Linked DNA regions of Homo sapiens. The protein of the gene in region 1 interacts with the protein of each later gene in a pairwise test. Each region holds a gene or a part of one and is shown in the gene's direction. Other genes may lie near its edges. The genes, in order: VSTM2L and CCM2.

Evidence for each region.
Region 2: the proteins of VSTM2L (region 1) and CCM2 interact in binary tests that used the Homo sapiens proteins (3 or more experiments, as listed by UniProt).

What each region holds. Positions count from the first base shown.
Region 1 is NC_000020.11:37,894,115-37,910,617, forward strand, and holds the start of VSTM2L (V-set and transmembrane domain-containing protein 2-like protein precursor), read left to right. Parts: upstream 1-9,012; 5' UTR 9,013-9,236; coding exon 9,237-9,357; intron 9,358-12,504; exon of another isoform or gene 12,505-13,047; intron 13,048-16,503.
Region 2 is NC_000007.14:44,992,560-45,008,742, forward strand, and holds the start of CCM2 (cerebral cavernous malformations 2 protein), read left to right. Parts: upstream 1-7,641; 5' UTR 7,642-7,774; coding exon 7,775-7,804; intron 7,805-16,183. UniProt on the Homo sapiens protein: Component of the CCM signaling pathway which is a crucial regulator of heart and vessel formation and integrity. May act through the stabilization of endothelial cell junctions. May function as a scaffold protein for MAP2K3-MAP3K3 signaling.

The sequences.
Region 1 (16,503 bases):
TTCCAGGCTCAAGTCATCCTCCCACCTCCGCCTCCCAAGTAGCTGGGAATACAGGCACGTGCCACCACGCTTGGCTAATTTTTATATTTTTTTTGTAAAATCTAGGTCTCACTATATTGTACAGGTGGGTCTCAAACTCCTGGGCTAAAGCGATCCTCCTGTCTCGGGCTCCCAAAGTGCTGGGATTACAGGCGTGAGCCACTGTGCCTGGCAAGACCCCATCACTTCAAAAAAAAAAGTGACCAGGATGATGGCTGTTACTGCTGCTGCTTCCACCACCCTGGCACTGGGGCCCTGCTTCCTCTCTGAAGCTGGAGAAGGCTGGGCAGCCCTCAGAGGCTCCCTCTGCTCTGCAGCAGGAAATCTCAGGAAGACGCTGTCACCCAAGGGGAAAGCAAGGAGGATTAACCCCTGAGGCTGCAGGCATCCTTGAACAAGCCCAGCTTTACCAGCCACCTGGGCAGGTCCTCCCCAAGCCTGAGGCCCTGTCTTCTGCCTGCCTCCACCTGAGGGCTCTGATGGCAGAGGCTGGGGGCAGTGGACCTTGGTCCCAGCCACTGTGTGACTTCAGCCCAGCCACTTCATCTCTCTGAATCTTCGTGGTTTCAGCTGTAAGATGGAATGAACAGTCCCATCCTTGTCACGAGGATTTGGTGAGATAAATCCTGGTGTCTGGCACACAGGAAGCGCTCAACAGATGCTCATCCCCTTCTCCTGTGTGGGGTCCATGGAGATACTAGGCCCAGGCCTCCCTTAGAGGCATCTAGCTCTGTGCTGTCCGCTATGGTAGTCATGAGCCACACGGACCATTGAGCACTGAAAATGTGGCTGTCCAAAATTGAGATGTGCTTTAAGTATAAAATGCACACACCAGATTCTGGTGGCTTGGTATGGAAAAAGGAACGTAAAATATCTCAGTAATAATGCTTTATATTGATTATGTGTTGAAATGATAATATTTTTGATATATTGGGTGACATAAAACAGATTATGAAAGTTAATTTCACCTGATTGCTTTTACTTTTTTAAAATGTGGCTACTAGAAAATTTAAAATTACACAGGTGGCTCGCATTTTACTTCTGTTGGACAGCATCGGCCTAGCTAATTACTCACAACCATGGAATATTTAGACTGGCATTAACCACGCCATTAAAGTCAGTTCAGGATTTTAAAAACACTCCTACAAGCAGGGCCTTGTAATTGGCAGAGACCCTGCTGTCCCGCGGTGTTTAATAAGCACTTGGTTTGCAGGGTGAAGGGCCCTAGGAACCCCTCCCTGATGCAATTAATTGCCTTTGATGGGGATTGTCATTAGGCTTCTTGCTGGGACAACACAGATACGAGCCACATGTACTTACTGGCCTTGGTAGAGTGCAATTTGTGGGTTTAGGTTCAAATCTGAGGGCCAAAGCCTGGAGGGATACTATGGGCTGAATGTGTCCCCCAGATTCATATGTGGAAGCCCTAACTCCCAATGTGGCTGTACGGTATTTGGGGTAAGGAAGTAAATAAGGTTAAATGAAGTAGGAAGGGTGGAGCTCTGATCTGATAGGATTAGTGTCCTTATAAAAGAGACAATAGATATTAGGCTGGGCACAGTGGCTCAAGCCTGTAATCTCAGCACTTTGGGAGGCCAAGGCAGGCAGATCATTTGAGGTCAGGAGTTCAAGACCAGCCTGGCCAACATGGTGAAACCCCGTCTCTACTAAAAATACAAAAATTAGCTGAGTGTGGTGGCAGGTGCCTGTAATCCCAGCTACACAGGAGGCTGAGGCAGGAGAATCGCCTGAACCTGAGAGGCAGAGGTTGCAGTGAGCTGAGATCACACTACTGCACTCCAGCCTTGTCTGAATAGAGTGAGACTCTGTCTCAAAATACATAAATAAATAATAAATAAATAAATAATGAGAAGAGACACCAGAGAACTCCCTTTCTCCCTTCCTCTTCCCTCTCCCACCCTCTTCCTCTGCACATACAAAGAAGAGGTCTTGTGAGCACACAGCCAGACAGCAGTCACCCCCAAGCCAGGAGAAGAGGCCTCAGAGTGAAACCTATCTTGCTGGCACCTTCATTTTGGACTTTCCAGCCTCCAGAACAGTGAGAAATAGATTTCTGCTAATTTCTGCTTAACCAGTCTGCAGTGTTTTGTTACAGCAGCCTGAGCAGACTAGGACAAAAGGTTCTTTGGGCCTCGGAGAAGTTCCCTCTTTGGGAAGCCACAGAGCTGGATGTTTTTTGAGGAGCTGCTTGGCTGCACAGGTGATGATGGATCCTGTCTGACCTCCTCAGGCAAGTGGCATGTGGAAGAAGGACCCCGGCCTAGAGTCAGGAGACCTGGGTCTTTGGCCTCGTTCTGCCATTCCCTCACTGTGAGATCCTAGGCTTCTCTCCATGTCTTTCTAGACCTCAGTTCCTCTGTCTGCACAAAAGGGACATGAGGATTGATCTTTGATGGCCTTCTCCGTTAAAAATTAGAGATGCTGGCTGGGCATGGTGGTTCTCGTCTGTAATTCCATTCGCCACAGTGGGAGGATCGCTTGAGGCCAGGAGTTGAAGACCAGCCTGGGCAATATGGTTAGACTCCTATCTCTACAAAATATTTTTAAAATTATCTGGGTGTGGTGGTGCATGCCTGTAGTCCCAGCTACTCGGGGGCTGAGGCGGGAGAATTGCTTGAGCCCAGGAGTTTGAGGCTGTAGTGAACTGTGATAGTGCCTGCCACTTTACTCCAGCCCGGGCAGTAGAGTGAGACCCTGTCTTAAATAAATAAATTAAAAAGATGCTTTAAATTTAAGTTTTAGGTTTTAGATTATGTCTTCACTCTGTGTGGTCCACTTAGACCGGAATCCAGAAGAAAAATGTCAGGGACACTCCCTAGGACTTCTGGCAAAGGCAGGAGCCAGAATGAATGAATTTCCTGTGCCCAGGCCCCCCTGCTGTCCCTGGCTCCTAGCCCTTGGCCCAAGCATGGCTCTCAGCCTAGACAAGGCCTTCCTAGGAGGCCTAGGAGCCCTGCGGGAGGCAGAGTGCAGATAAAGGCTCGGAGTCCGTCCATGTGGAAAACCTGGGTCTGCGGCGATCGTGAACCACATGGGCAGAGGGGCCAGACCTGGGGTTCCTATGATGGGAACATGATGTGACTGTGGAGGCCAGTCAAGGCTCCTGCCAGCGGTGAGTGGAACAGATAAAGAAATCAGTCATCAGAGGAGAGAAGTACCCCAGACCGGAGTGGGAGGTCACATATCGGCTCCCTGTGCTGCCCTCCAGAGGGGAACTGGGGCAGAGGGGCCTCCTCATTCCACGAGGCTGGCTGGGCTCAATTCAAGGAACCCTTGTCCTCCCACCTCTGTTGGAATCCTCACTGCAGCCCACTGGATCCCTGCACGAGACACACCTGGGGTGCTTAGTGAGCAGGCAGATTCCCAGATACCCACCCCGAAAAGCCAGTCTGAAAGAGAACACCCAGGGGTGGGGCCTGGCCACAGCCAGCCTCTCCAGAGAGTCTCAAGTCCAGTAATATCTAATAACTCTGTGTTTAGGCCAATGGTGTTCAATCCTAGCTGTGGACTGTGATCACCTGGGGAATTTTTTTTAAACCCTGATACCCAGATCTCACCTAAGACCAATTATGTCAGAATCTCTGGGGTGTGCCCTGGGCACCCATATATTCTTAAAGCTCCCCAGTCGTCCCAGTGTGGGTCCAAGGACTGCCCCAGCTCCAGATCAATTCTAAGAGCCTCAAGATGAACATCTGGGGAAAAGGAGAAGTCATGAGTCTCAGATAAGAGAAATAACTTGCCCAAGGTCACACAAGGTGGTGATGGCAAAGCCCGTCCTGAAACCCAGGCCTCTTTCCTGACCGTGGGCCAATTTCTTCCTGATGCTGCATCTCTTTTTAAAAACCAGAGCCCAGGCAGGCAATGCCCACAGTATTTCACTTTAATAATATTGGAAACCGGTACAGTCAGGGCCACCACAGTGGTGGGGCGGGAGCCTCGATGGCGATTAGGGGAGCTGTAAGTCTTTCGCTTTATCCAAATCTTGGGCAGTAATTTAGAAAATTTAATTAAAGGGGGAGAAATGGGGACACCTCGCGCTCCCTGCCTCCTGTTATAATGAGTGAAATACACCAGGCTGTAAAAGGAAATGCTGTCTGAGACGCAGCTCCGATGTTTTATTGCCAAGTTTTATTCACTGATGTAAACGTAATCGCTGGAAACCGGAGCTCTTATTAACACACATATTTTCACACATCCGGGGCCCCTCCTGCTCCCCCCTCTCCCTCTGGGCTTGTTCACCCACCTCCTAGGGTCAGCCCTGCTGCTTTCTGGGCATGTCTATGCCAAGCCTGGAGTTCCGCACCGGTTTCATACCCTCCCATGGCAGATAAGACTTTAATAGAATTCCATTGCTCCTCAGAGCTCAGTAATGCATTCTGGAAATTAGGCGGCTACATACTAAAGCCATTGTTCCCCCTTATAAATGGGCTCTCTCAAAGCCAGTGACCATGGGGGCTCTGATAAGCTCTCATGAAGCCTCACTCCACATGTTATTGGTGTGCTAAAAGGTGCAACTCCAGGCTTACATTGCTCATTGTTAGGGGCTGATACATTTAAGTAGTTTCTCCATGAATCAGGCAGCCTAGGTATTTCCCCCACTCTTGGCATTGATAGATGAGCAAAAGGAAGCCATTTAGATGGTGCTATATAGGGCTCCAGCCCACGTGGTGAATGATTTCCAATGCCTGGTTTAATTTATTTTTAAATGAAATTTGTTATTGATTCTGGATTAAAAGGACAAATCTTACAGCTGTTACCACTGACAGAGCCACAGTGCTCAAGTGACACCTCTCAAGGAGGGGAGGGAGGGTGGCCTGTCTGAGTCAAGGGGAGGGTATGGAGACTCTCCAGGGAGCTTGGCTCAGCAGTAAGGGGCAGTGCAAGATCCCATGCTTAGAGGGAAGTTTAAAAATATCATCTTTCCCAATTGAAATACTTGACGTGATGCTCACCTCTGAGCCTCATTTATATAATGGAAATAGCAGTGATATTTGCCTCATGGCATCCACACGACCACTAGAGGCATGTTAGTTGCCTCCAGGGATGGGAGGCTTTCCATCTCCTGCAGCATTCCCAGAATGAAATGAGTGACAGGCGTCACCCACTCTAGTGAATTCCTAGAGACTGTTTCCTGGGCTAGTCTTTGCTTACCTTCTGCCTCCACTAGGCTCTCGGCTTCCACGGTGCCCAGAGATTACACTTGCATTGGGAAGCAGACAAGAGGCACAATTACACAGGGGAGGAGGATGGGCTGGGATGTGTCCGTTCACATTCAGCCTCTGCCCTACCTCACTGTGCAACTTTGTGCAGGTTACATCATCTTTCTGAGCTTTGTTTCTCCATCTGTAAAAGAAGGAAGGGTATAATAGCAGCCTCAGGGGTTGTTGTATGAATTATAGGAGATCATGGGTGTGAATGTGATTTGTAAACTGTAAAGTGTAGTTTAGGTGCTGCAGGAAATACAAGTGGGACAGTACAGTATAGTGGGAGGTCTCTGAGTTGGGAGACAAAGGACCTGGATCCAGTTCTGTCATGAGTGGCTGTGTGGCTCTGAGAAAGTGAATTACTTTCTCTGGGTCTTAGTTTCTTAAGGTGCCAAGAGGGTAGGTTGGAATCAAACATATGAAATGTTTGATTGGCTCTGGAATCAAACACATCATGGCCTTGCTATGTCGCTTTAGGCAAAATACCTAACCTTTCTGAACCTATGTCCTCATCTGTAGATATCAAGAACACTAGTCAACATGTATCATGTATTTGCCATGTGCCTGGCATTGTTCTAAGTGCTTTCCATGTAACAACTCATTTAATCCCCACCACCCTGCTGTGAAGGAGGTATTATTACCCTTGTTTTACAGACGAGAAAATTGAGGCACAGGGAGGCTAAGCAACTTGTCTAAGTTTACACAGCTACCAAATGGCAGGATTCAAAACAGAGAATATGGCTCTAGAGCCCACACTTCTAACCACACCATCCTACCCTACCTGGCCTGGTGGTTCTGAGGATTAAGGGGAATAATGAAAGTTCTTAGGGCCATGCTGGGCATACAGTGATGAGCCAACAGAGGCTTGGGGACTGGGAGAAGGCAGCAGGCATTTCTTCCCATGGGGACTCAGGCTGGACCTCGCCCAACTGGGGACTCAGCTAGACAGAGGGGAAGGCATACAAGCACAGGGGAAGCACTGGGAAGGTTGAAGATGTAATGAGGCCAAGGCATGCCCAAGAGAGCACAGGATATGTGCAGGAGGTGAGTCTGGGACCCTGAATGCAAACTAGAGAAGTCAGGATTTCTCACATAAACAGGCCATCAGAGGGTTTTTTTAGCAGAACCATTATATCATGAGCATTTTCTTCTTTTTTCCTTTTTTTTTTGAGATGAAGTCTCACTCTGTCACCCAGGCTGGAGTACAATGGTGTGATCTTGGCTCACTGAAAACTCCGCCTCCCAGGTTCAAGCGATTCTCCTGCCTCAGCCTCCTGAGTAGCTGGGATTACAGGTGCCCACCACCACTCCTGGCTAATTTTTGTATTTTTAGTAGAGATGGGATTTCACCATGTTGGTCAGGCTGGTCTCGAACTCCTGACCTCGTGATATGCCCACCTCGGCCTCTCAAAGTGCTGGCATTACAGGCGTGAGCCACCACACCTGGCCGATCACGAGCATTTTCAAAGGCATACAATCCCTGGATGTCTGTCCTTGAAGGAACCTTGACCTTGTTCCAGGCTTCAAAGAGAAAAGATTTCTGAAGGTCAGCCGGTGGGCTAGGGGCACAGCAGCAATGTGCTGCCATCCCGCCAGACCCCCTTCCTCTGCAGGCCTGAGCAATCTCTTGTTTACTCCTCTTTAATCTCCTCTCCCTCCCTGTCCCCTTGCCTGTGTCTGCTCCCTCCAATCTGTGGTTTAAGAGGAGAAAGCCCGGGTTTGAGTCCCAGTTCTGTCACCACAGTCTCCTGGTGAGGCCTCAGGCTGGGGTTGAAGGAGTCCTGGGTTTTAGTCTGGCTAACATGGTGGCTGCTATGTGATCTGGAGGATTCTCAGTTTCCATATCTTTATGATGGAAGCAGTAGTTCATTTCGCTGGGAGCGGGGTTCAGGGTAGTTAATGAATGAGAAAACACGTGCATAGAGTCCAAGACGCCTGGCCAGCCCAGGATAACCTAAACACCACCTCTGTGTGGGAAGAAAGTGAGAAGTGAGAGAATCAGGCAAACACGGCCCCTTCCTCCAAGGCATGTGGTCCAGAAGGTTCGGGGGGTGGGGGAAGCGGTCGACGCTTGGGACCTGTCCTCGGTACTGAAGGGAGCGCGGGGGCTGTGGACGGTGCTAGAACACAGTGCTTGTAAGTGCGGGACATCGTGGAGGAGGTGTCCTTAGTTTGGAAGGAGCTGGATTGTTGCTGGCTACCACGGGCCCCATCCGGTGTGCTACCCCCCCCCCATAATACTGGAAGGGGGGCGCTAAGACAGAGGGAAGACGGCGAGGGGCTATGTTCCTTGGTCTCTAACCTTGTTCTCAAACTTGGGCGCTGTACACACGGCTGGACGCGGGATCCACCTGTGTTCTGGAGTGGGGAGTGGGCTGTCGGAGGGGTTGACCCTGTTCGACGGGGACGGGGAAGAAAGTCTGAGGGTCTGTCCACGGTGTGAACCCTAGCATCAAAGGGCCAGTTGAGACGCTGTCCACGGTGCCCAAAGGATGGGCCCGGGTGGGGCGGGGGGCGGGGGGCGGGGGGGGGGCTGGCGCTGTCCTCCTCCGTGGTGCTGAAACCGGGAGGACCAGGCTGTGTGAGCAGGGAGGCCTGGGGAAGGGCAAGGGATGAGAGCAGGAGGGACCCCGCCCAGGAGTCAGGGGCCTCGCCCGACTCGCCGTGGGACCTCAGAGAAGCTAATTACCTGATTTCAGGCGCTTCCTTATCTTTTAAATGGGACCACAGTTCCGCCCTCCTGTCTGTCCCATCAGCCCCAGTAACACGGCTTGGGAAGGAACTGGAGGACTTTGTTGGATTCTTGCTCTTGGGAATGGGAATGGTGCCCTATCCCCCTCCCCTGCCACACTCACACACACATACACCCACGCATACGCGCGCGCACACGCACACGCACACACACACTCATGCACACACACACCATCAAGGCTCATTGGTCTAGGGAAGGAGCCTACAGTCCAGAAGGGGGCGATCCCATCCACCACATAAGGTCCAGTATCTTCAAGAGCCAGGAGCCGCAACAACTAACTGGCCTGTCTCTCTCCCATTACAAAGACTCGAAAACTGAGTCCCAGAAAGGGGAACACCGACAATAATAACTACTGAGCTCCTACCACGTAGGCAGCATTATGCTAAGCGCTTTGCATGCACGATTTCGCAAATCCTCACCAGGACCCCCGCAGACAGCTATTACCCCTATTTCTCAGATGAAGACTTCGAGGTTCAGAGAGGGGTAGACACCCGGACGCGATCACACAGCGAGCCGAGGTCGGCGGCAGAGCTATCACCAGGTCCCCTGGGTCTCAGCCCAGGCTCCCACCCTACCTCGCCCTCACCCCCAGCCCCACTGGCCCCTGACCCCGGCCCCGCCCTGCCGGTAAAGTTAGGAGCCTCTGAGTGCGCTGGCCTGGCGGCGGGTGCCCTGGCTTTTCTCCCTCTCCCCGCTGGACGGCATTTCTGTGGCTGAAGCCCGTTGGGTCGTGCTTTGCGGGAACCGCGTCCCTGGGGTGGCTCTCTCCGCCCCATCCCGGCCCCGCCTCCGCACTCGGGCGGGGGAAAGTTGCGGGTACCGCTTTAAAAATCCCAGCCTGGGCAAAACTTTGATGATAAATCAAGCGGCAGATCCCTCCGCCGCCTGCTCCGAGCGGGAGGAGGGAGGGGAGGAGGGAGGGGAGGAGGGAGGCGGGAGGAGGGAGGAGGGTGCGGCGGCGGCGCGGCGTGGCCTTCCGCGGAAGGGAAGAGTCCCGCAGTCGGAGGCGGCCGGCTGGGCGTGCGCTCGCTCCCCGAAGCCGGGGCTGGGCCGGAGCCGGGCGAGGGCTGGGAGCTGGGCCGGGTCCGGGGACAGCGGGCGAGGGGCAGCTGCCGGAGCCGGGCAGCCAGGCCGCTCAGGGCAGGGGACAGCTGGCGCCGGTTCTGCGGTCTCCGGGGCCCAGATGTGAGGCGGCGGCGCCCCCGGCCCGAGAGCGCACGATGGGGGCCCCGCTCGCCGTAGCGCTGGGCGCCCTCCACTACCTGGCACTTTTCCTGCAACTCGGCGGCGCCACGCGGCCCGCCGGCCACGCGCCCTGGGACAACCACGTCTCCGGCCACGGTGAGTTCGGTCGCCGCCCCCGCGGACTTCCCCACCAAACCCCAACCCGGGCCGCGCCACTCCAACTTGGCCGCCCCGGGGCTCGAACCGGCGCCAGTCGTGGCGGGCATCCCGGGGCGCCCCCTGCCGGCGCGGTGGACCCGCCCTGGCACCCTGGCCCTGCAGAGAAGGGGGCACCCGGGGCGCACCCCCGAACCTCCTCCCCACACACTCGCGCGGATACGCACACCTGCATGGCCACACCGATATGCACAGCCGCGGACACACTCAGAGCCACAGTCGCTGCTTTCTCACACTCACAACTCCTACCCTGCACATCTCCACACACCTCAGGTCCCCCTCCTCACTGCAAGCCTTTACACTTATGCCCACTACACACGCACATCAGGCACTGCGCCGGTGGGCTCACTCTGCCAGCTGGCGCACACGCTTCGCCACAACTCTTGCCTGCCCACCTGCAGACACACTGGTGCGCGCGCGCGCACACACACACAGGCACACACATACACACACATGAACACAATTTGCTCACCCACTCCTCTCTGCCCATCTGCCTTTACTCTTCTGGGTTTAACCGCACAGAGGCCCTTGTCCTCTTCCTCTCCACACCCAGCCCTATACCACTGGAAAGGTCCTTGGGGGCAGAAGACCTTGTTTCTTGAGAACTGGTCGCCTGGGGCTGCAGCCTCCCAGTTGGGCGGGTGGCACCTGGTGGAAGCCCCTCAGAGCCACCGGAGTAGTTGGGGTTGCTGCTTGCAGCCAGAGGCATGGGAGTGGGAGTGGAAGTGGAATGCCGGGTGCTTTTGTCTGCCTCTGGGGATGGGCAGGAAGCCGTGCCATCCTTCCATAGGGTACCCCCATCCTCATCCTCGGCCCTAGAGGACTGAAATGTGGGAAATCTCAACTCCAGCCGCTGTGGAAGCCGGGGAGCAGACAAGCATTCCCAGCACTGGCTGGCTGAGTGTCAGAAGCTCCTGCTAGCCCCGAAGGAGCCCAAGTTGGCAGCAGAGTTGGACTGTATGAGCCCGGCAGCTGTGGGGGCTCCCCCTGACCCCTGTGAGCCTGGCTCTGGGATGGAGGCTCGAGCATAGATGAAACCAAAGGAGACCTTTCTTCCATGCAGCCCTTCACTAGACAGGCTGACAGCCTTGTTGGGGAGGCTGCAGCCCCAGTGCTGGGCACTGTGGGCCCAGGGCTGTGGGGAGGTTTGCACAAAGGCCAGATAATTGGATGATTTATTCTGATGGGAGTGAGTGGGGGTAAGGCAGGGTAGATAATCAGGGAAGGTTTTGCTGGGGTATGACACATGAGTGGGATTGCTCCAGTGGAGAGGGGGGCTTCGAAGCCATCCTCAGGGTCTCTGCTTTTTGGGAACCATGACTCCCCGCCCCCTTCTGCCTCACCATGTTTGGTAGTAACTGCTGTGTGCATCATTTACATACCCTTCATGCCCCTCACCTCATTTCTACCGACCTGGCTAGAGCGGTGGTAAATAAGGAAAGGGTTCTTTTGATCCTCAACTTACAGATAGGGAAACCAAGGCTCAGAGAGGTGAAGGAAGTTGCCCAAGGTCACACAGTAAGAGAGTGACTGAGCCAGGACAGGCCCCAGGGTCTGTCAGGCAAAGACAGCGCTTTTTTCCAGGACATTCATCTCCCTGTCAGATTCCCTCCCATTCTAGGGAAACTGGGAATTCCTCCCTCTCCACCCCTCCTCTCCTCGCTCCGCTCAGTCCCTTGGCACAGTTGGAACTTACACTAGGAGGGGTTTCCATGGAGGGCCTTCCCTGAGTTTGCAGTCCCGAGGGGTATGAGGAATGGGACTCTGAGGCTTATGGTCGTTCTGTCCCTAGAGCACCAGACCCCAGGGACTTGGGTGCCAGTCTGTTATTCCCAAGGCCCCAAGGTGGCTCCCCCCCATAGAAAAGCAGGGTCTGTCTGCCCTTTGTGTGACAGTCTCTACCTGTCCCCTGGTGCCAGGTAAGCTGAGGGGGCACAGCTCTGCCCAACCAGCTGTAATCTCCCCTCTGCACCCTGGAAGGTCAAGCTAAGGCCCAGGACAGGGGCTAGATGAGAAGGAGGCACCCCTAGTTGCTGGGGAACCTGGCTTCTCTCCTGAAACCCCCGTGTGGCTCTGGGCAAGTGAGCCACCCCTCTGGGTCTCCCTGTGTCCCTAAAGAAACAAAGAAGCCAGGCTGCTCTGCAGGGGCCAGGCTGCCTTCCCCCGACATTGCCAGGTTCAAAGTCACCAAGTAGTGACTGCCGAGGAGCCCCCACAGCTGCCCCTCTGCCGTGCCAAGCACCCGCCACCACAGGAAGGGTTTGGAGCCACTCACTTAATCACAAAAAGAAACTGTTATTAATGATAGTGAGACGCGGCGAATAAGTGGGTCATGTCTAATAAGCTATTTGTGTTCAGGAGGAGAATACCAATTTGATAAAAGCTGTGTGTGCTGAAAAAGCTCAGAAATTGCTGTTTAGCAGATTGGGGCCTGATCATTTCATTATTCCTGGGCTCCGTGTGTCCTCAGCTGATTCAGGAAATGTGGCCCAGTCGGGAAGGTGTCTCTGTGTCTGGGGGTGGGGGGTGGGGGCTGGAAGCAGGGGCTCCTGGGGAGGGGCACATTGACCCCAAGTGCTTGGTGGCTGCTCACCCCTCCAACTCCATCTGAGCCCAGCCCGGCCGCCGGGCTCCTGCCTTCCACCTGCCTGCCCTGGAGCTTGTCACAGGGAAAGCCTGCGGTCAGATGGGTCAGAAAGGACATCTGTTTTGCTTCCCATCTCCCTCCCACCTCCACTCAAGGTACTTGGAAGAGGGCTTTTTCGAGGTGTGAGGAATGAATGGGGAGCATGTATCTCAAGGAGGCATCAGGCACTGGGAGGTGGGGTGGTGATGGTCCGTGTCTGCACCTAGTAGGTGCTCAATAAACAGGAGTGATTTTGATTTTTTCTTATCAGAAAATGTTAACTCATTGCCCATGGGCACAGCAGGGATGGGAGGAAAAGGTGCAAGCATTGATGAAATGCCTACTGTGTGCCCCGTGCTGCCAAGCCCTTGCCAGTGTTAACTCACTCAGGCTGACCATTCATGCAAGGTTGGTGTTGGAGATAGGAGGAAACTGAGGCTCAGAGAGGGCCAGTGACTTACCCAAGGGTGCTGAGTCTGTACAGAGAGCTGGAAAGCTGTGTTTAAGATGAAGATGCATCTGGCAGCTCTGGGACTGCCTCCTCCAGAACAGCCTTGAGGCAGGCTTGGCCATGGCGTCTTCCTTCTTGTAGCCGTAACCCAAGCTTTCTCCCTTCTAGCTCCTCAGGGAACCAGTAAAGCAGTGGGTTCCACCAAGAGGAACCAGCCACTCAGAAAGGTGGCAAGATCTTGCTGAGGATACCTGTAGGTTAGAAACAGGCAGCTGGACTGGACCCCAGGATCTTTCCAGATCTTGTCCAGGGGAGGGATCCAGAGGGCAGGGTCTTTGTGAAGATCTCTGTAGACCCCTACAGCTTGCAGAGGACCCCTACAGCTTGCAAGAAGCCTCACATGGCAGAGTCCCCCAGGGAATTTTTTACAATGCAGATCCCCCAAACCCGCTGCCAGAATGGTTATTTGATGGGACCCTGGAATGTACATTTTATTATTATTTTTTAATTTCTCTTGAGACAAGATCTTGCTCTATTGACCAGGCTCGAGTGCAGTGGCACAATCTCAGCTTACTGCAACCTCTGCCTCCTGGGTTCAAATGATCCTTTTACCTCAGCCTCCGAGTAGCTGGGAGTGACAGGCATGTGCTACCACCCTCAGCTAATTTTTAAATTTTTTGTAGAGATGAGAGCTCATTATATTGCCTAGGCTGGTCTTGAACTCCTGGGCTCAAGCCATCCTCCCTCCTCGGCCTTCCAAAGTGCTGGGATTACAGGCATGAGCCACCGCATCTAGTGGAATCTGCATTTTAATAAGTTCCCCAGAGGATTCTCATGCAGCCTGGGATTTGGAAGCCACTGCCTAAGTATTTACCCATACCTGGTGGGAGATGTAGGGACAGGAAATGTCTGACGCTATGGACTGGCTTGGTTTGGTTTCACAGGGGAGGGAGAGGTCCAGACAGGGGCAGGTGGATGGTCCCTGAGAGGAGCTCCAAGAAGCCTCACACTGCAGCAGACAACTCCCCTCCCACCCCCACCCTGCCACACACACACACCCCTACACACACACACACCCACACCCACCCCTAGGCCAGCACCTTCAATTATTCATATACCCCAGTGCAGACAAAGATCCTGGCTTGGCCGGGGGCTTTGTCCATTGAGTGATTCACTGTCCTGAGATTCTCTCTGTTGCCAGGAGGGACCAGCAGGGTGCTGGGGGAGGGAGGGGGCACCGGGCCATTTGGCAAGCAGCCTGTGCACTGAAAAATGACTCTGGCTTCCTCGCATTCCTTACTGAACTGTTGGTATCTCACCATCAATAAGCTGGCTAGTTTGGTGGCTGGAAGATGAAGAAAATTGAGTCCTGTCTTCCAAAGGTTATGATGTTAAAAATGTGTTCGTCTTTGTCTCGGGCGTTGGTGATTATTCTATCAATTACGCCTGTAAACACTCTGCCTTGGGCTGAGGGTTTCCCGGCCTCCTGTGGGGAATTGGCCCTCACAAGCGGTTTTCCCCAAGTCCTTCACACCAATTGGTTTTGACACCTTGCCCATCAGCAGCTCCTGCAGCCTTTTCCCCAAACAAGAGAAGCCGCAGGCGGCCAGCAGGACGCAGGGAATTTGGCTCCTTGCCATGGTGACAGCAAGGATGGTGGGCAAAGTCGCCTGCGGCAAACAAGTGGGCAGGGTGAGGGGAGTCGGGTAAGTGACCCCTTCTGATCCACCGGCTGTGGGGGCAGGAGATGGAGCTTTTGGAATGAATCATGGAGGCCCCTTGGGACCATCGTCCCAAGCCTCTCTCTTACAGATGAGAAGACAGAGACCCAGGGGCAAGGGAGAATTTGCCCAGAATTGCCCTGGAGGGTACTTCTTGGCTTTTGGGATTACCTCATCCAACTCTGTACAAATGGAGAGATTGGCTGGGCACGGCGGCTCATGCCTGTAATCCCAGCACTTTGGGAGGCTGAGGTGGGTGGATGACTTGAGCCCAGGAGTTTGAGACCAGCCTGGACAACACAGTGAGAACTCATCTCTACAAAAAAATAGCCAGGCATGGGTACGCACCTGTAGTCCCAGCTACTCAGTAGGCTGAGGCGGGAGGATCACGTGAGCCCAGGAGATGGAGGTTGCAGTGAGCTGAGATCGTGCCACTGCACTCCAGCCTGGTTGACAAAGTGAGACCCTGTCTCAAAAGTAAATAAATAGATAAAAATAAAAAGAGGAGAGATAAACATATGGAAGCAAGTGTGTGTTGAGTGCCATGCCAGGGCCTTGAATGGTATCATCTCATTCAATTCTAACGAGAACTCCAAGAGGAAAGACTGTTTCGGGCCCACTGTTTAGATGAAGAAAATGAGACTCGGGGAGGTTAAGTGGCTTACCCAAGGTCACACACCTACCAAGTGTCAGAGGCTGGACTTGAACTGAAGAATCTGGCTTCAGGGCTGGGAGTCCAAGGAAAGAGGAGGAAGAGGCCCACGTCACACAGAGGGGAAGAGCAGGGCTGGGACTTGAGGCTTGGCTCTGGGGTGGAAGGAGTGCAATGGCCTCCGCATTCCACACCCAGGAGGGCGAGCAGCAGTGGGAACAGAATGCTATCCCAGCGACCCTCCAACTTCCCTCGATTTTCGAAAGCATGGGGAGAGTGTGTAGTGTGAACAGCGGCACAGGTGCCCACGTGAGAGTGTTTGGCCATCACCTTGGACTTTGGGGACCAAACCAGCTGCTGATGGTGTTGTGGGAAGACTCTCTCAGTCCTGAAAGGAGTTTGGGGCCCGCTGGGCACACTGGGGTCAGATTCCCTTGTGTCCTGGGACCCAGGACAATGCCCGGCCCAGGGAGGTGGCAGGGAATGAATGAATGGATGACGAGGAGGACGAAGCAGGGGATGAGGTCTGAATTCTTAAAGCTTTGCTCATTCCAAGTCAATATATTTTTAAACATTCAAATGATTTTAATTTCTTAAGGAATCTATGTTTATAGGGGGAAAAAATCACAAAATTGGAGCCCCCTCCTTATCCCTGCTGAGCAGAGCAAGGACATCCTGGAGTGGGCAAGGCTGATGGCACCTTGCAGTGGGTGGGCCCAGGCTCTGGCCTTGGGGTGCATATGTGATGCTGCAGCCATGAGGATGGGGGAGTCCAAGGGTCGCGCCCTTCTCCCCTGACCCTGATGAGGCACTTGCATCAGAAAAAGCAGCAGTGGTCCAGCTGGGGAAGAAATCTGCTCCTCTCCTAGCTGCTGGTCCTGGGGTCCAGAGCCCACCCAGCTGGCTCCCCCTGGTTCCCACTGCTCCAGAGAAGTGAGGTGGCAGTGGGGAGGCAGAGAGGGGCTGCTGCTCCTCCAGGTTCCCTTCTCACAGCCAGGCCTCCCTTCCCTTCCTTGAAGCCATCAGGGCGTCCCTGGGACTCAGCTCCACTTCACCCCCAGTTTCAACCCTCTTCAAAACCCCCCAGGGCCCGCAACAAGATTGGGTCCTACCGGAGAGATGATTTTAGGCAGAACCTAGAGAAACCTCTTACATTTTAATAGTTAAGCATTTATTTTAATGTGTACTGAAAAAATATAACTAGCACATCAAAACTGTGATTTCACACATATGATTGCTTAGGATGAGACTAATGGGGGTATTAAAAAATGGTGGGTTAGTTTATAGAAAAACATTAAGGACATAATAGCGCAGGCGGTGCGTGGGCATGTCCGTGGGGATCCACAGTGTGGACATGACTTGGAGACCCGGGGGCATCCAACAGGCTGCCCTGTCACACTGCATGCTCCATACTCTTCATACTGGGAGCTACTGGCCTAATGAGGCTGCTGCCATGTTTGGGAAGCTTGGTCATTCATTCATTCTTTTATTCATTCAACAAATATCAATTGGGCACCTGTCATGTGCCAGGCTCTTTTAGCCACTGGGAACTTATCAGTGAAGAAGACAGCTAAGGTTCTTGCTCTCTTAGAGTTCTCAGTCTAGTAGGGGAGACAGAAAACTGAACCCATAAAGA
Region 2 (16,183 bases), on another chromosome or scaffold:
CTGTTGGGCACACCTCCCAGACGGCCTGGCGGCCGGGCAGAGGGGCTCCTCACTTCCCAGACGGGGCGGCTGCCGGGCGGAGGGGCTCCTCACTTCTCAGACGGGGCGGCTGGGCAGAGACGCTCCTCACTTCCCAGACGGGGTGGTGGCCGGGGTGAATTTCTCTTTCAAAGGGGTAGCTTATGCTGTTTTCATAGCTTCTGTTTCTCAAAATTACTAGCTCAGAATAATCCTTAGGCCAAGGAGGCATATTTTGGGGTGGCATATTCTGGTCTCCTACAGATGTATGCCTGAAAAGAAAATTAGCAATTTGGCTCTAGAAGAATAAACAGTGTTAGCTAATGAGATGTCAAAATGGAACTTGCAAGGTTGCTTCCGTTGGGGGCCACACAGTGTGGCTGTATTTCTGAGGGGTCATTCTGATCCAGAGTTGATTTGGTCCTTCATGATTTATAGGCCTGGAAACTGGATATTAAAATTCACTGATAGTTCACTCTAATCAACTCTGAAGTGTCTTTCCTTCACTAATGAAGTCTATATGGTTTTATCATGTGCACAACAGTCAAAGTGTTGCATGTCATACGTCAAAGAATAACTCAGAGAAGGCCAGGCGCGGTGGTTCATGCCTGTAATCCCAACACTTTGGGATGCCAAGGCGGGTGGATCATGAATGAGGTCAGGAGTTCGAGACCAGCCAGGCCAATATGATGAAACCCTGTCTCTACTAAAAATACAAAAATTAGCAGGGCGTGGTGGCACACGCCTGTAGTCCCAGCTACTCGGGAGGCTGAGGCAGAAGAATCGCTTGAACCCAGGAGGCAGAGGTTGCAGTGAGCCAAGATTGTGCTACTGCACTCCAGCCTGGGCCACAGAGCGAGACTCTGTCTCAAAACAAACAAACAGAAATCAGAGACATCTAGTTAGTTATTTGCAAGCCAGTTCTCATATGAGGGAGACAACTGATAGACTCAAGGACAGATGGCTGAGAGGCACAATAAGAAAACAACTGCAGTCAGTTTCGAGACCAGTGAAAAGATTCACTTAAAAAAATTGGCTGGTTGGCTGGCTGCAGTGGCTCACACCTGTGATCCCGACACTCTGGGAGGCCGAGGCTGCTGGATCACCTGAGGTCAGGAGTTTGAGACCAACCTGGCCAACATGGTGATGGTGAAACCCTGTCTCTACTAAAAATACAAAAATTGGCTGGGTGTGGTGGTGCATGCCTGTAATCCTAGCTACTCGGGAGGCTGAGGCAGGAGTCACTTGAACCCAGGAGGTGGAGGTTGCGGTGAGCCAAGATCATGCCACTGCACTCCAGCCTGGGCAATAGAGCAAGACTCTGTCTCAAAAAAGAAAAAAAATTGGCTGGAAGGCTGGGCACAGTGGCTCATGCCTGTAATCCCAGCACTTTGGGAGGCCAAGACAGATGGATTGCATGAGTCCATGCGTTCAAGACCAGCCTGGGCAACATGGTGAAACCCTGTCTCTACAAAAAATACAAAAATTAGCCAGTGTGGTGGTGTGCATCTGTAGTCCCAGCTACTTGGGAGACTGAGGTGGGAGGATAGCTGGAGCCTGGGAGGTTGAGGGTGCAGTGAGTTGAGATGGTTCCACTGCATTCTAGCCTGGGTGACAGAGTGAGACCCTGTCTCAAAAAAAAAAAAAAAATTGGCTGAAATCTAGCAAAAATGCAAATCTGGGAACACTGTCTTTGAATAGGCCAATTAAGTGTAAATTTTCAGTGTTTAGGGGTTTTCTTAAAACCAGGGAAACATTACCTGAACAGGGCCTAGCTGGGAAGCATCTATGAGAAACTATGTTCAGGTAATGTTGCCAGTGCCCCTCCACCTCAGTCTGGCTCAGTGTACATAATTTCCCTTATTAGAGTTTATTTCAGATACAAGGAGGAATCCCACATAGTCCGTACCTTCAAAGGAGCTTATTCTAGTAGAGGAAATGTCCTAAACCTGGTTAACTCTAGCATCACAGACATACAGATACAGTTATCTGGAAACTGGAGGAGGGAAAAATTGCATCCAGAAATTTAGTGGAAGATGTGATTATTGAGCTGGGTCACAAAGCTCAACAGCCAAATTCACCAGCAGTCTAAAAGACTTGGGTTTAAGCCAGGCGCGGTGGCTCACACCTGTAACCCCAGCACTCTGGGAGGCCGAAGCAGGCAGATCACGAGGTCAAGAGATCAAAACCATCCTGGCCAACATGGTGAAACCCCGTCTCTACTAAAATACAAAAATCAGTTGGGCAAAAAGATTTGGGTTTATTAACCTACCATGACCAGGGAGAGCACCCCAGAGGAAGAAGGGCTGCTTCTCATTACGAGGGAATAGGAAGGGGACTTTGTAAGGTTTGGGCTGGCCCTGAGTAATTCTGAAGAGGGGACAAGGGGAAGTGAGTATCATGGCTATAAAGTTGCTTTCATGAAGTGTGGGCAGTTTAGTAATTGGGTACCTTGGTCGCTTTTGTTCAAGATGTAGGAGCCACACAACAGGCTGGGGAGGTTATTGGTAAGAAAGCAGTAATCATAAGTAGGTGGCTGTTAGGACACTTTACAGCCAAGGTGTGACCTGGAGAGAAAGAAAAGATTGTTTTATGTTATAATTGTCTCATTGGTGTCTGTTACGAGAGACTGAATATACAAATAGACAATGGCTGGACCATTTGTACAACTAGAACTCTGACTGACAACCTGCAGAAACCTCCTCAGGAAACCAATTCGTTATCTACAGCAACCAGCCCAGGAAACAAGCCTGCTGTAAGTCATACTTGCAGGAAGCCAGGTGTTATCTCTAGTGACAATCCAGGAGTAACTTTTCTAACAGCCCCCAAAGCCTAGGACTTAATTAATAACTGGCACCCTATCTCTCACCAGATACAAAAATCAACTCAAAATGGATTAAAGACTTAAACATAAGACCTGAAACTACAAAACTACTAGAAGAAAACATAGGGGAAATGCTTCAAGACATTGAACGAGGCAAAGATTTTATGGCTAAAATTTCAAAAGCATAGGCAACAAAACCAAAAATAGACAAATGGGACTATATTAAGCGAAACTAAAAAGCTTCTGCACAGCAATGGAAACAATCAACTGAGTGAAAAGACAACCTTTAGAATGGGAGAAAATATTTGCAAACTATTCATGCGGCAAGGGACTAATATCCAGAATATACAAGGAACTCAAACAACTTGACAGCAAAAAACCACAAATAATCCATTAAAAAGTGGGCGAAGAATCTGAGTAGACATTTCTCAAAAGAAGATGTACAAAAAACAAATAGGTACATATAAAAAAATACTCAATATCATGAGTCATCAGGGAAATGCAAATCAAAACCACAATGAGATACCATTTCACCCCATTTAGAATGGTTATTATCAAAAAGGCAAAAAATAAGGGTGTTGGCGCACCTGCAGTCCCAGCTACTTAGGAGGCTGAGGTGGGAGGATCCATTGAGCCCAGGAGCCCAGCTCCTTAGCTCAAGCTGCGGTGAGCTAAGATCATGCCACTGCACTCCAGCCTGGGTAACAGAGGGAAGCCCTGTCTCTAAAAAAAAAAAAAAGACAAAAAATAAGGTTGAGCGTGGTGACTCAAGCCTATAATCCCAGCACTTTGGGAGGCTGAGGCGCGAGGATTGCTTGAGCCCAGGAATTTGAGAGCAGCCTGGGCAACATAGAGACCTCATCTCTACAAAAAGTAAAAAAATTAGCCAGGTGTGATAGCAGACACCTGTGGTTCCAGCTACTGGGGAGGCTGAGGTGGGAGGATCTCTTGAGTCTATGAGATCAAGGCTGTAGTGAGCAGTGATCATACCACTGCACTCCAGCCTGGGTGACAGAGTGAGACCTCATGTCAAAAAAAATTAGTATATATACACAATAGAATACTATTTGGCCATAGGAAAAAAAAATGAAAATGTCATTTGCAGCAACATAAATAGAGCTAGAGGTCACTATGTAAGCCTGTAATCCCAATACTTGGGAGGCTGAAGTGGGAGGATGGCTTGAACCTAGGAGTTGGAGACCAGCCTGGGCAACATAGTGACCTCATCCCTGTAAATTTTTTTTTAAACAAAAAAACAAAGACAAGTATTGCATTTACTCACTCATATGTGGGAGCTAAACAAATATTCATCTCATTGAGATAGAGACTGGGATGATAGCCACCAGAGGCTGGGAAGGGTGTGTGTTGGGGGAAAGTAGGGGGCTGAAGAGAGGTTGGTTAGCGTGTACAAACATACAGCTAAATAGAAGCAATAATTTCTCATGGGTGTGTGTGTGTGTGTGTGTGTGTGTGTGTGTGTGAGACAGATCTGGCTTGTTGCCCAGGCTGGAGTGCAGTGGTGCAATGACAGCTCACTGCAGCCTCGACCTCCTGGGCTCAAGGACCCCACTTCAGGCCCCTGAGTAGCTGGGACCACAGGTGCACACCACTATGCCCAGCTAATTTTTGTATTTTTTGTAGAAGAAGGATCTCACTATATTGCCCAGGCTGGTCTCCAATTCCTGGGTTCACGTGATCTTCCCAGCTTAGCCTCTCCAAGTGCTCGGATTACGGGTTTGAGCCACCACACCCAGCCTAAATTCTAATGTTCCATAGCAGAGTAAGATGACTATAGTTAATAACAATGTACTGTATATTTCAGAATAGCTAGGAGAGATCTGAAATGTCTCCAACACAAAGAAATAAGTGTTCAGGTGACGAATATCCTAAATACCCTGATTTTATTATTACACATCATATGCATGTATCAAAATATCACATGTATTTTGGCCGGGTGCAGTGGCTCATGCCTGTAATCTCAGCACTTTGGGAGGCTAAGGTGGACAGATCACATGAGGCCAGGAGTTCGAGACCAGCCTGGGCAACATGGTGAAACCCTGTCTCTACTAAAAATACAGAAATTAGCCGGGCGTGGTAGTGGGCACCTGTAATTCCAGCTACTCCGGAGGCAGGAGAATCGCTTGAAACTGGGGGGTGGATGTTGCAGTGAGCTGAGATTGCACCACTGCACTACAGCCTGGGCAATACAGAGTAAGACTCTGTCTCAAAAAAAAAAAAAAAAAAAAAATTAGCCTGGTGTGGTGGTGCATGCCTGTAATCCCAGCTACTTGGGAAGCTGAGGCAGGAGAATTGCTTGAACCTGGGAGGCAGAGGTTGCAGTGAGCTGAAATCATGCCACTGCACTCCAGCCTGGGTGACAGAGTGAGACTCTGCCTCACACACACACACAAATCACATGTACCTCATAAATATGTACAATTATTATGTGTTAGCTGGGTGCGATGGCTCATGCCTATAATCCCAGCACTTTGGGAGGCTGAGGAGGGAGGATTGCTTGAGCCTAGGAGTTTGAGACCAGCCTGGGCAACATAGTGTGACCTTGTCTCAACAAAAATATACTAAAATTAGCCAGGCTTGGTGATGCGTCCTTGTAGTCCCAGCTACTTGGGAGGCTGAGATGGGAGGATTGCTTGAGCCCAGGAGGTTGAAGCTTCAGTGAGCCATGACTGCATCACTGCACTCTAACCTGAAGGACAGAGTGAGACTTTATCTCTAAAAATACAAAAGAAACAAAAAATTATTTGTCAATTAAAAAAAAACTGGCAGCTTTCCTAGTTTTCGGTCCTGCTTCCAGCTTAGGAGCAACCAGAGAAAGACAAATATGTGCCCCTAACCAATCACTTGGGATGCCCTGCCCCTTGCTTCCCCAGGCCAACAGCCTCAAATGAGGACATCCCTGGAGGCTTCCCTTTTTTCACTATAAAGCTTACCCACTCCTCTGCCTGACATTGAGTCTCATCCAAATACAAATGATGGTGGCTGACTCCCTTGTTATAGCAAGCTAACAGCCTTTTTGCTTTTCTCATTTTATTGTCTTTATTCCCAGTTATCACCATCTGATCATTAGCCAGTGGACTTTTGCTTGAAGCATGAACCTGTGTATGCAAAGACAGGGCAAAGGTATTCTGATGGATAAGAACAGCCTGAGGAAGTCAGCACATCCAGAGTTAGGCTAAGAGAAGTTTTAGTAGTGTTGTTTACTGTATTATGGAGTGATAAATATGCATTTGTGGAAGACGGTGGAAGACTTTAAATATCAGGCCTTTGTTCTGTGAATGGTGGGAAAATAATGACAACCAGATGCGCTACATCATTTGCGTGTGTAAATGTGGCAAGCTGGATTATTGCAGAAGGCAGATTGAAAGGGTGTTTCCACTATCTCTGCTTTATCTTGCAGAGAATGGAATACTTATGCCTTTGGAGAGGTCTAGAGACCAAGTATTTCTTTTGAATATCAGTATAACATAGGCCCAGTCAGGAGACAGAAACACAGTAAAGAAAAGTTTAATATAAAGAATTATTAGGCCGGGCGCGGTGGCTCACGCCTGTAATCCCAGCACTTTGGGAGGCCGAGGTGGGCGGATCACCAGGTCAGGAGATCCAGACCATGGTGAAACCCCGTCTCTACTAAAAATACAAAAATTAGCCAGGTGTGGTGGCTGGCGCCTGTAGTCCCAGCTACTCGGGAGGCTGAGGCAGGAGAACGGCGTGAACCCGCGAGGCAGAGCTTGCAGTGAGCCGAGATCCACGCCACTGGCACTCCAGCCTGGGCGACAGAGCAAGGCTCCGTCTCAAAAAAAAAAAAAAACCACCAAAAAAACACAGTTTACATTCTAGCTGTGCTACAAAGTTCTTACCGGCAGATTGGTTTAGTGGCAAAATAGCAGACCTGCTGGTGACTCCAATTTGTAGTGTGCTTTTGGGCGAATCACCTCATTCCCCGGACCTCATCTGGAAAATGTGGAAATTATACCGGATGACTGGTAAGGTTCTACGATTTTATTCTGATAGGGTCTGCACATCCTTGTGGTTGCACTTCTATTTTCCAAATGTGTTTGTCTAAGGCAGGCAGACTTTATAACAGAGAAGTACTAGAAAACGGATTCCCTGTGGCTCAGGGAATAAAGTGGGACACAAGAAAAAAGAAAACCGCACCGCACCCAGACTCTCGGCGGGACGCCCCGCCCCTCAACAGTGGCCGCCTCCTCGCGCCCCTCCTTCGCCATCTGCCGGCCGCGTCCCCTCCCGCCGGCCCCCGTCCCCCGTCCCCCGCCCCCCGTCCCCTTTTCAGAGACCTGAGCTCCGCCTCCCTGGACGCGAGGCAGGCTGGGAAGTCGGCCGCCGTAAAGATGGCGGCAAATTGAAAAAGTTGGAGCTGCTCCCGCGCGCGCTCCCGCGCGCGCTGAGTGGGCGGAGCGAACAGGGGGCTGGACAGGTGCGTTCTCGCGGCCGTGCAGAAGCGAAGTAGGGGTAGGAGCGTTTCCGGCTCTCCTGAAGGACGCGGGGCGGGGTGGGGGTGGTGCAAGGCAGGCGCGTTCTCGGCCGTCCTGAAGGGGCAGGATCTTCAGCCTGTGGGCGGTGCTCTCGCCGTGAGCGGGGCCAACGGGCCGTGTTCTCCCTGAAGGGGCGGGGTCTGATCGCTGCGGGTCGGATTCCCTTGGGCCTGAAAGTGAGGATGAGCGACAACCGTGGGCGGGGCCTGCGCTGGGGAAGGTGGGGCCTGGGCGGGGCGGAGGGGGCTCGGGCCCGGAAGTGCGGGTGTGGGGCGCGGCCGGGGCGGAGACTTCGGGCCCGGCTGGCGGGCGGCGCCGGGAGCGCGGGGGCGGCGGGCCCGGGTCGAGCATGTAGCGGCTGCTGGCGGCGGGGCTCCCGGGGCGGGCCGGGCGGGCCGCGGGAGCCGCACGCGGCGATATGGAAGAGGAGGGCAAGAAGGGCAAGAAGGTGAGCGTGCGCGGGGGCGTCCTACTGCTGTGGTCGGCGGGCGGCTGGGTTGAGGGGCCAGGGTGGGGTGGGCGGGTGTTCCTTGGGGCCCGGGGGGGGGGGCAGTGGGCCAGCTGGCGGGGCGGGGCGGGGCAGGGCGAGACCCCGGACAATGGTCAGGTGGGCTTTCGCGGCCGGGCGGGCAGGAAGCGCCGCGCCTTTCCTCTGGCCCGGGCAGCGGCTCGCCCCGACCTCGGCCCCAGACGGCCTTCCCTGCGCGTCGGGACCTGGGGCTGCAGAGGAAGTGGGCCCGGCGAGGGGCCAGAAAGCTGTCCAGGGCTGGAACTGGAGCTAGTGGGCTGTGTGGTTAACGTGGAGACGTTTGCTGCTCACTGGACTTCGTTTTTGGATATCCAGTAAAAGCAAGGGTGGCCTTCACCTTATGGCCAGCTCACTCGTCCACTATCACTCAGACCTAAAACCATTGATTGATTTTAGTGACGCTAGCTACATTTGGCAGTGGGATTTAGGACATAGTTCATAGTCAAACCCCAGTTTATGTAGTTTTACAAAATGTGGCTTTAATTACAGTAAAGGGTTATAGTAGTCGATAAAGAAACATTTTAAGACTGGAAAAACGATGTGGATTGAACTACCATTAAAGTGGAAAATGGATTTTAATAAAATGTATCTTTTTCAAATAAATGCTTTATAATCTTCACGTCTTGGCTATCATTTTCTTTTTGATGTGTGTGTGCGCACTTTTATCCACAAGTTTAAAGCAGACCTCGATAATTCCTAACTATGATTTTACTACCCTGAACTCTGCAGGGAAGTGTCCTTTAATTGACAGCTACTCACCACCTTGTTTGACAGAGTGCCCCATTTAAAAGTCCTGTTTGAAATAGAATGTAGCCAGGTGGCCTTCAGGGAGTCCTGTGGTGCTGGTTCTCTACTTTCTCAACTCATTGTTTCATGTTAGCACCATGCATGTCTAATTTAGGTGCAGTATAATTTGCGGTTATCTACAAAGATGTTTTAAGTCTGGAAAATAGCTCAAGATAGTGATTCAGCCTGCAGGTGTTAGATTAGAGATGCGTGCTGCGCACAGAAGAGGGAGGAGCCAAGCAGTGTAAAAGGAGTTAGCTGGAAAGGAGAGGTGCTAACCCGGTGGCTGCTTAGTAGGGACCATCAGGCCCGAGTGTGGATGATGCTGAGCTTTGCGGAAAGTGAGCCATGTGCTCTGTGGAATGCCGGGATCCAAGAGCGCGCTAAGGACTGATGACCTCATTGTGCACCGCTTACAGGAGTACCTGGCCCATCTACCTGTGTGTGATAGGCAAGGATGGAATTGAGTGATTTTTTTTTCTAGAGCTGTCTATCAGCTTTGGTAGAAACATGAAACACCCAGCAAATAGGGAGAGAGAGAGAGAAGCAGTAAGACTGTTTTTGGGGTACAAGTGAAAAAACAGTAAAATTATCAAGAATTTTCCAGTTGGGTAATGAAAAAATTTAGGCATAAACAGGTTAATTATTAATTTCATTTTCTCACTAGAGGAGATAATCAGTTGTTATGTAGTTGCTTAAGCCAGGGGTTTTGTGTTTTTTCTGTATTCTGCCACTTGTCTTAGCTTGTTTCCTGTAGACAAGCCAGACAAGGAGCTTTGGGGCATGGATTCTTCTCCAGGTCATGACTTAACACTACCTCGTGTACTCTGCCAGTTGCAAGCTGGCAGAACCTTCCTGCTCAGCTACCACATTCAATGTGAGATCACCTCCAGTTTAATAACTTCGGTGGTTAAATCATTCTCATTAAGGTAAATTGCATTGCTCTAAACTTATACACAAATTCAGACATAAGTAGCAGAAGTGCTGACAATAGTTTTATGAAGGTACAGTTTGGACGCTTAAATTCTTCTAAGTTAGCTTCTTCAAAAAATGCAGAATTAGGCTGGGTATGGTAGCTACGCCTGTAATCCAGCACTTTGGGAGGCCAAGGCTCGATCACTTTAGCTCAGGAGTTCGAGACCAGCCTGGGCAACATGGCAAAACCCCATCTATACAAAAAATACAGAAATTAGCCAGGCGCGGCAGCGCTCGCCTATAGTCTCAGCTACTTGGGAGGCTGAGGCAGGAGGATCACCTGAGCTCAGGTGGGCCTTTTTTTTTTTTTTCTTTTTAATCTCAGACACTTGTCTTGGTGTCTGCCAAGCAGTGATTCAGGCTTTTTTTTACCTCGGCCCATTTTCCTCAGGACACAGGAATCAGTGAGTTGGCAGAGAACCTATGGACCAAAGTGAGTCTCACGGAAACTTGGCCCCAGTGTATCACTGCCCTTTCTCAAGTCACCTCAGCACATGTGGTGATGATGACTGTACACCTGGGTTTCCTCAAGTGGGCCATGGTTCGTTTAACAAATGTCTGTTGAGCCCCTCTTGTGTCCCATGAAACTCACTGGGTGATGGGGATACAGGAAGAGCTTGTGGCCCCCAGGAGCTGATGGGGAGATGGATCACTCATGGGTCCATCTGAAGGAATGAGTGCATTGACAGAAAAGTCCTCTGGCCACTAAAGGTGTGGGGCCTGGGGAGTAGAAGTGACCACTTGGGGCTGCTCTTCTGTCCTGATGTCTACAGAGTGTCTACTTTTTAGCCTACAAGTTCTGTTTTGGGGTTTGGAGAATAAGGCTCCTACCTACGGTATGGACTCATGTTCTGTGCATTGTGGCACTATGTAATTCCTTTTTTTTTGAGATAGAGTTTCGCTCTTGTTGCCCAGGCTGGAGTGCAATGGCACGATCTCAGCTCACTGCAACCTCCGCCTCCCGGGTTCAGGTGATTCTCTTGCCTCAGCCTCCCGAGTAGCTGGGATTACAGGCGTGTGCCATCATGCCCAGCTAATTTTTGTATTTTTAGTAGAGACGGGGTTTCTCCATGTTGGTCAGGCTAGTCTCAAACTCCGGATCTCAGGTGATCCACCCACCTTGGCCTCCCAAGGTGCTGGGTGGCTGAGCCACCGCACCTGACAGTAATTCCTTTTTATTAGAAACTTGGATGCACTTAAGTTGGGTTGTGTGGATTTTTATACTCAGATCACAGCCCAAAAAAGCTGTCTTGTCAGGGTTGGGTGTAGGTAATCCTAACACTTTGGGAGGCCGAAGCAGGCGGATCACTTGACACCAGGAGTTTGAGACCAGCCTGGCCAGCATGGTGAAACCCCGTCTCTACTAAAAATACAAAATTAGCTGGGCGTGGTGGCATGTGCCTATAATCCCAGTTAGGAGGCTGAGGCAGGAGAATCTCTTGAACCCGGGAGGTGGAGGTTGCAGTGAGCTGAGATCATGCCACTGTACTCCAGCCTGGGCAACAGGGCAAGACTCCATCTCCAAAAAAAAAAAAAAACCATCTTGTGGCCTTAACCTTGTGGGTCTCAGCTTCTCTGCTGCCTCTGGTCTTCGGTTGCCCCACCAGGTGGCTATGATTTCACACTGATCAAAGTTAAATATTTTTACATTCATCTAGTTTATTTGCATTGTTTAAGGTAGAAAAAGGTTATAGGTTGAGTGTAGTGGCTACGCCTGTAATCCCAGCACTTTGGGAGACTGAGGTGGGAGGATCACTTGAGCCTAGGAGTTTGAGATCAGCCTGGACAATGTAGTGAGACCCTATCTCTACAAAAAATAAGAAAATTAGCTGAGCATGGTGGTGCATGCCTGTAGTTCCAGCTACTTGGGATGCTGAGAAGGGAAGATCGCTTGAGCCCTGGAGGTCGAGGCTGCAGTGAGTGTGATTGTGCCACCACCTGAGTGACAGCAAGACCCTGTCTCAAGAAGAAAAAGAGAAAAAAAAGGTTATAAAGTTCCCTAGAAATGTAGGACTAGATATTAAATAATAAATAAGGAATTATTAATTTTGTTGGGTATGATAATTAAGTTCTGATCTGATAGGCATGTATTCTGAGATATTTGTAGGTGAAATAATATGATTTCTGGGATTTGCTTTACTCAAAATAGAAGAAACAAAGGGGATAGCTGAATGCTTTGGTAATGGTTATATATTGTTCTGTCTACTTTTATGTATTTTTGAGAATTTCCATAATAAAAAGTGGAGGGGAAAAGATCCTCTAGGTTACAGGCCCTGAACTATCAGCTGCTGTAGTCACTGCTGGACCAGTGTCTGTGAGGAACTGAAAGCTTGGATTGGACCAGTACCTTTTAAAATTTGGTCACTGCAGGCACCAGGAAGCCATACCTTCTCCATGCTGACCTGATGCAGACATAAATGTGTGTGTCTGTATAACCGAAGTGAAAGTTTAAAGGAACCACACTTAAACGCTCTGATTTTTTAATTCTATTTTTTTTTCTTTCTATTACAACTGGTGGTTGGCCAGGTGCGGTGGCTCACACTGGTAATCCCAGCACTTTGGGAGGCTGAGGTGGGTGGATCACCTGTCAGGAGTCTGAGACCAGCCATGGTGAAACCCCATCTCTACTAAAAATACAAAAATTAGCTGAGCGTGGTGGTGGGGCCTGTAATCCTAGCTACTTGTGAGGCTGAGGCAGGAGAATTGCTTGAACTCGGGAGATGGAGGTTGCAGTGAGCTGAGAATGTGCCATTGCGCTCCAGCCTGGGCGACAAGAGTAAGACTCCGTCTCAAAAAAAAAAAAAAGGCTCATGGTCATGACCCACTAAACCGATTCTATAACTGTCACAAGCCATACTTGGGTTCAGAAGGTGAATTGGGGCTGCTATATTTTGTTTTATTTTTCCTCTTGGGTAGCTATTGCAGTGATTCTTGGATGGCAACTTGGTAACTCAGGGTCAGGAGGCTGGAGAACCAGGCAGGAGGTGCTCAGCAGAGAACCTAAGGCAGCCAGTAGGTGAGGCCAGAATGATCGGCAACATAAGGCTGGTTACTTTTCTGTCTTGAAGAGTTACCATTTACATAGTATGTATTTGTTAATTTTCAACATATTGTCAGATTCTGTCATAATTTAGATTCAGAAAGCACATCAGAACCTTCCAGGGCTGCTCTGAGCATCCTTTCAGAGGAAGATAGTGTAAAGCAAAACGTTTCTCTTAGCAATATTATTGCAGTGAAGGGCTTCCCTGCAGACGAGAAGGGCGTCTGCAGTCTGCCCCACTGGGGCGCTTACTCTTGATCTTCCAGTTTTTTCATTTCCGTCAGCAGTGCCCCCTCCTTGTTGTCACTTTGCAGTGTAAGTAAATGGTCATGATTAAGTCCTATAAACCTAACTATTGAGCATTTAAATCACCCTCTATTGTTGGTTTACGTGGTGGCGATACAAGTTTTTAGTGAGATAACTTGGTCATGCCTTGCCTATTATGTGCTTAGCCCACTGAGAAGAGGGTTAGGGACATTGCACTTTGGAAAGTAGGTCACTTACACCTAAAATTAGAGACTAAAGGCAGACCTAGGATGTCAGAAGAGACATGGGGCAGGCAGCAGCCACTTCCAGCCAGGTTGAGACCGGGACTGTGTCCTGCAGTTCAGAAGCAGAGATGAGGTGGAGAGGACCCCCCAGTCCTGGGAAGTCCTTGGGCTGGGAAGTTGGGTGTTGGTTCTGTATGCACTTGAAGCCACTGGAGGTGTTCCACATCATGCATTCACTTGTCCATTAAACTATTGTTTATTAGCACCAATGGTGTCAGACACAGATGCTGGAGACTGAAATGTGTACGGTGAGCCTGTGGCTGCAGAGCAGGAAGTGGAGCCCGGGGATGGATGGTGGGAGCAGGCTTTGGTAAGAGTGATCAGGAACACCTTTATGAAAACTTCAAAAGCAAATGTAAAGAAAAAAAATCATGTAACGAAGTCCCCTGTGCCCATGTGTGGGCAGTCAGTTTCATGTGCACCTTCTCCTCATTCCTGCTTCCTGCCTGTGTGGGCCGAATAGTGTCCCCTCAGAGTCATGTGCTGAAGCCCCTACTTCCAGGACCTCAGGATGTGACTGTATTTGAAGATGGAGTCTTTTTTTTTTTATTTGTTTTTATTTTAGACGGAGTCTTGTTGCTCTGTCACCCAGGCTGGAGTGCAGTGGTGCAATCTTGGCTCGCTGCAAGCTCCGCCTCCCAGGTTCCCGCCATTCTCCTGCCTCGGCCTCCTGAGTAGCTAGGACTACAGGTGCCCGCCACCACACCTGGCTAATTTTTTTGTATTTTTGGTAGAGATGGGGTTTCACCGTATTAGCCAGGATGGTCTCAATCTCCTGACTCCGTGATCCACCCACCTCGGCCTCCCAAAGTGCTGGGATTATAGGCTTGAGCCACCATGCCTGGCCTGAAGATGGAGTCTTTAAGGAGGTGATTGAGGTAAAATGAGGTAATTGTGTGGGCCCTAATCCAATCTGATGGATGTCCTTATAGGAAGTTATTAGGACACAGAGAGGAATGATCATTGGAGGACTCATGGAGAAGGCAGCCATCTGCAAGCCAAGGAGAGACCTCAGGAGAAACCACCCTGCTAAATTTACCTTGATCTTGGACTTTCAGCATCTAGACTCTAAGAGAATAAGTTTCTATTATTGAAGCCACTCAAGTCTATAATACTTAGTCCTGGCAGCCCAAGAAGGCTAATGCACCAGGTGATTTTGAAGCAAACCCTAGAGTTCAGTTTGTAGATAGAAGTGCAGTAGTAACTCATCAAGACAGAAGAGTAACAAGCCTTATGTTGCTGGTCATTCTGGCCTCATCTGCTGGCTGCCTTAGGGTCTCTGGGGTGAGTTCTGAGGACCAAGTCTACACTGTCAACATGGCCACGGACGAGCTGCTCAGAGTGACAGGACAACCCTCACTGTGCTGTATGTAAACCATAAATCACAGCACACTCTTTGTGGTTGGGAGAACATGTATGGTGTTTTGGGAGCTGGCACAGTCAGGGATGTCATTCATTTCATCTGGGACAGGCTTTGTGCTCTGGGATCTGTGGCGGGAGCAGTGAGCCCAGCCATGTCCTCTGCATGCATCGCTGTGTCCTTGTGAACAGTGGATCTTTGTTAGCGCGCTTCGCACTCCTTGGCTTTTTTATCTTTCAATCAAGAACAGCAACTGCTCTTCAAATGATTCTACAGGTATGAGGGAGTTTACATTTGGATTTGTCAATGGAACCATTAGGATTTTTTGTTTGTTTGTTTTGTAAAAATAAGAACTTTTTTCCTTAGCCTTGTGTCTGTGCCAAAAATGTGACCTTTTTTTTTCTCCCAAGTGTGCCCAAACAGTAACAATTTTTTGCTTGGATTATGTTAAGAATTAGGGCATTTGACCATAGGCATTAGATGTATGTGCAATGAAAGTGATCCCCTTTAATAAGCATAATAGGAACATGGAATTTGGGCTTTTGTTTGCAGCTTAGGATGATGGTGTGTCTTGTAACCCAAGGAGGTTTTTCACTTTTCTGAAAGTGAGAAGACTGGTCAGCCTAAACCCGTGGTGTCACTGTTCTTAAGGGAAACCTAGTTGAGGAGTGGGAGATAACCATTTCACATGTTGTTTTTGTACCTTGGAGAAAAAAAAGAGAGAAGCCTTTATTTAAATCTTTATGTCTATTCTATAGTTTAAAATTCCATACAGGTTTTTTTCAAAAAATCAAATTTGCTTCCTGTGTGTTGTCACCATGAGCTCTCTGGTCAGGTGTGGAAACTGAAATGTTTCCCTTGTTGGTTTATGTGGTGGGGTACATTTTTTTTTTTTTTTTTTTTTGAGGTGGAGTCTTGCTCTGCTGCCCAGGCTGGAGTGCAGTTGCATGACCTCAGCTCACTGCAGGCTCCGCCTCCTGGGTTCAAGCAATTCTGCCTCAGCCTCCCAAGTAGCTGGGACTATAGGTGCGTGTTCCCATGCCCGGCTAATTTTTTTATTTTTGGTAGAGATGGGGTTTCCCCATGTTGGCAAGAATGGTCTTGATCTCTTGACCTCATGATCCACCCGCCTCGTCCTCCCGAAGTCCTGACCAATGTGTGCCTCTGTGTGCCACCGTGCCTGGCCAAGGGTACATGTTCTTTTTTTTTTTTTTTTTTTTTTTTTTTGAGACAGTTTTGCTCTTGCCCAGGCTGGAGTGCAGTGGCGCGATCTCGGCTCACCACAACCTCTACCTCCCAGGTTCAAGCGATTCTCCTGCCTCAGCCTTCCCAAGTAGCTGGGATTACAGGCATGCGCCACCAAGTCCGGCTAATTTTGTATTTTTAGTAGAGACGGGGTTTCTCCATGTGGGTCAGACTGGTCTCAAACTCCCAACCTCAGGTGATCCACCTACCTCGGCCTCCCAAAGTACTGGGATTACAGGCGTGAGCCACCGCACCCGGCCAAGGGTACATGTTCTTAATGAGATGCCTTGGTCAGGTCTAAGTGTCAGTTATGGTGCATGTTGATTTTCTGTCAGATGTCT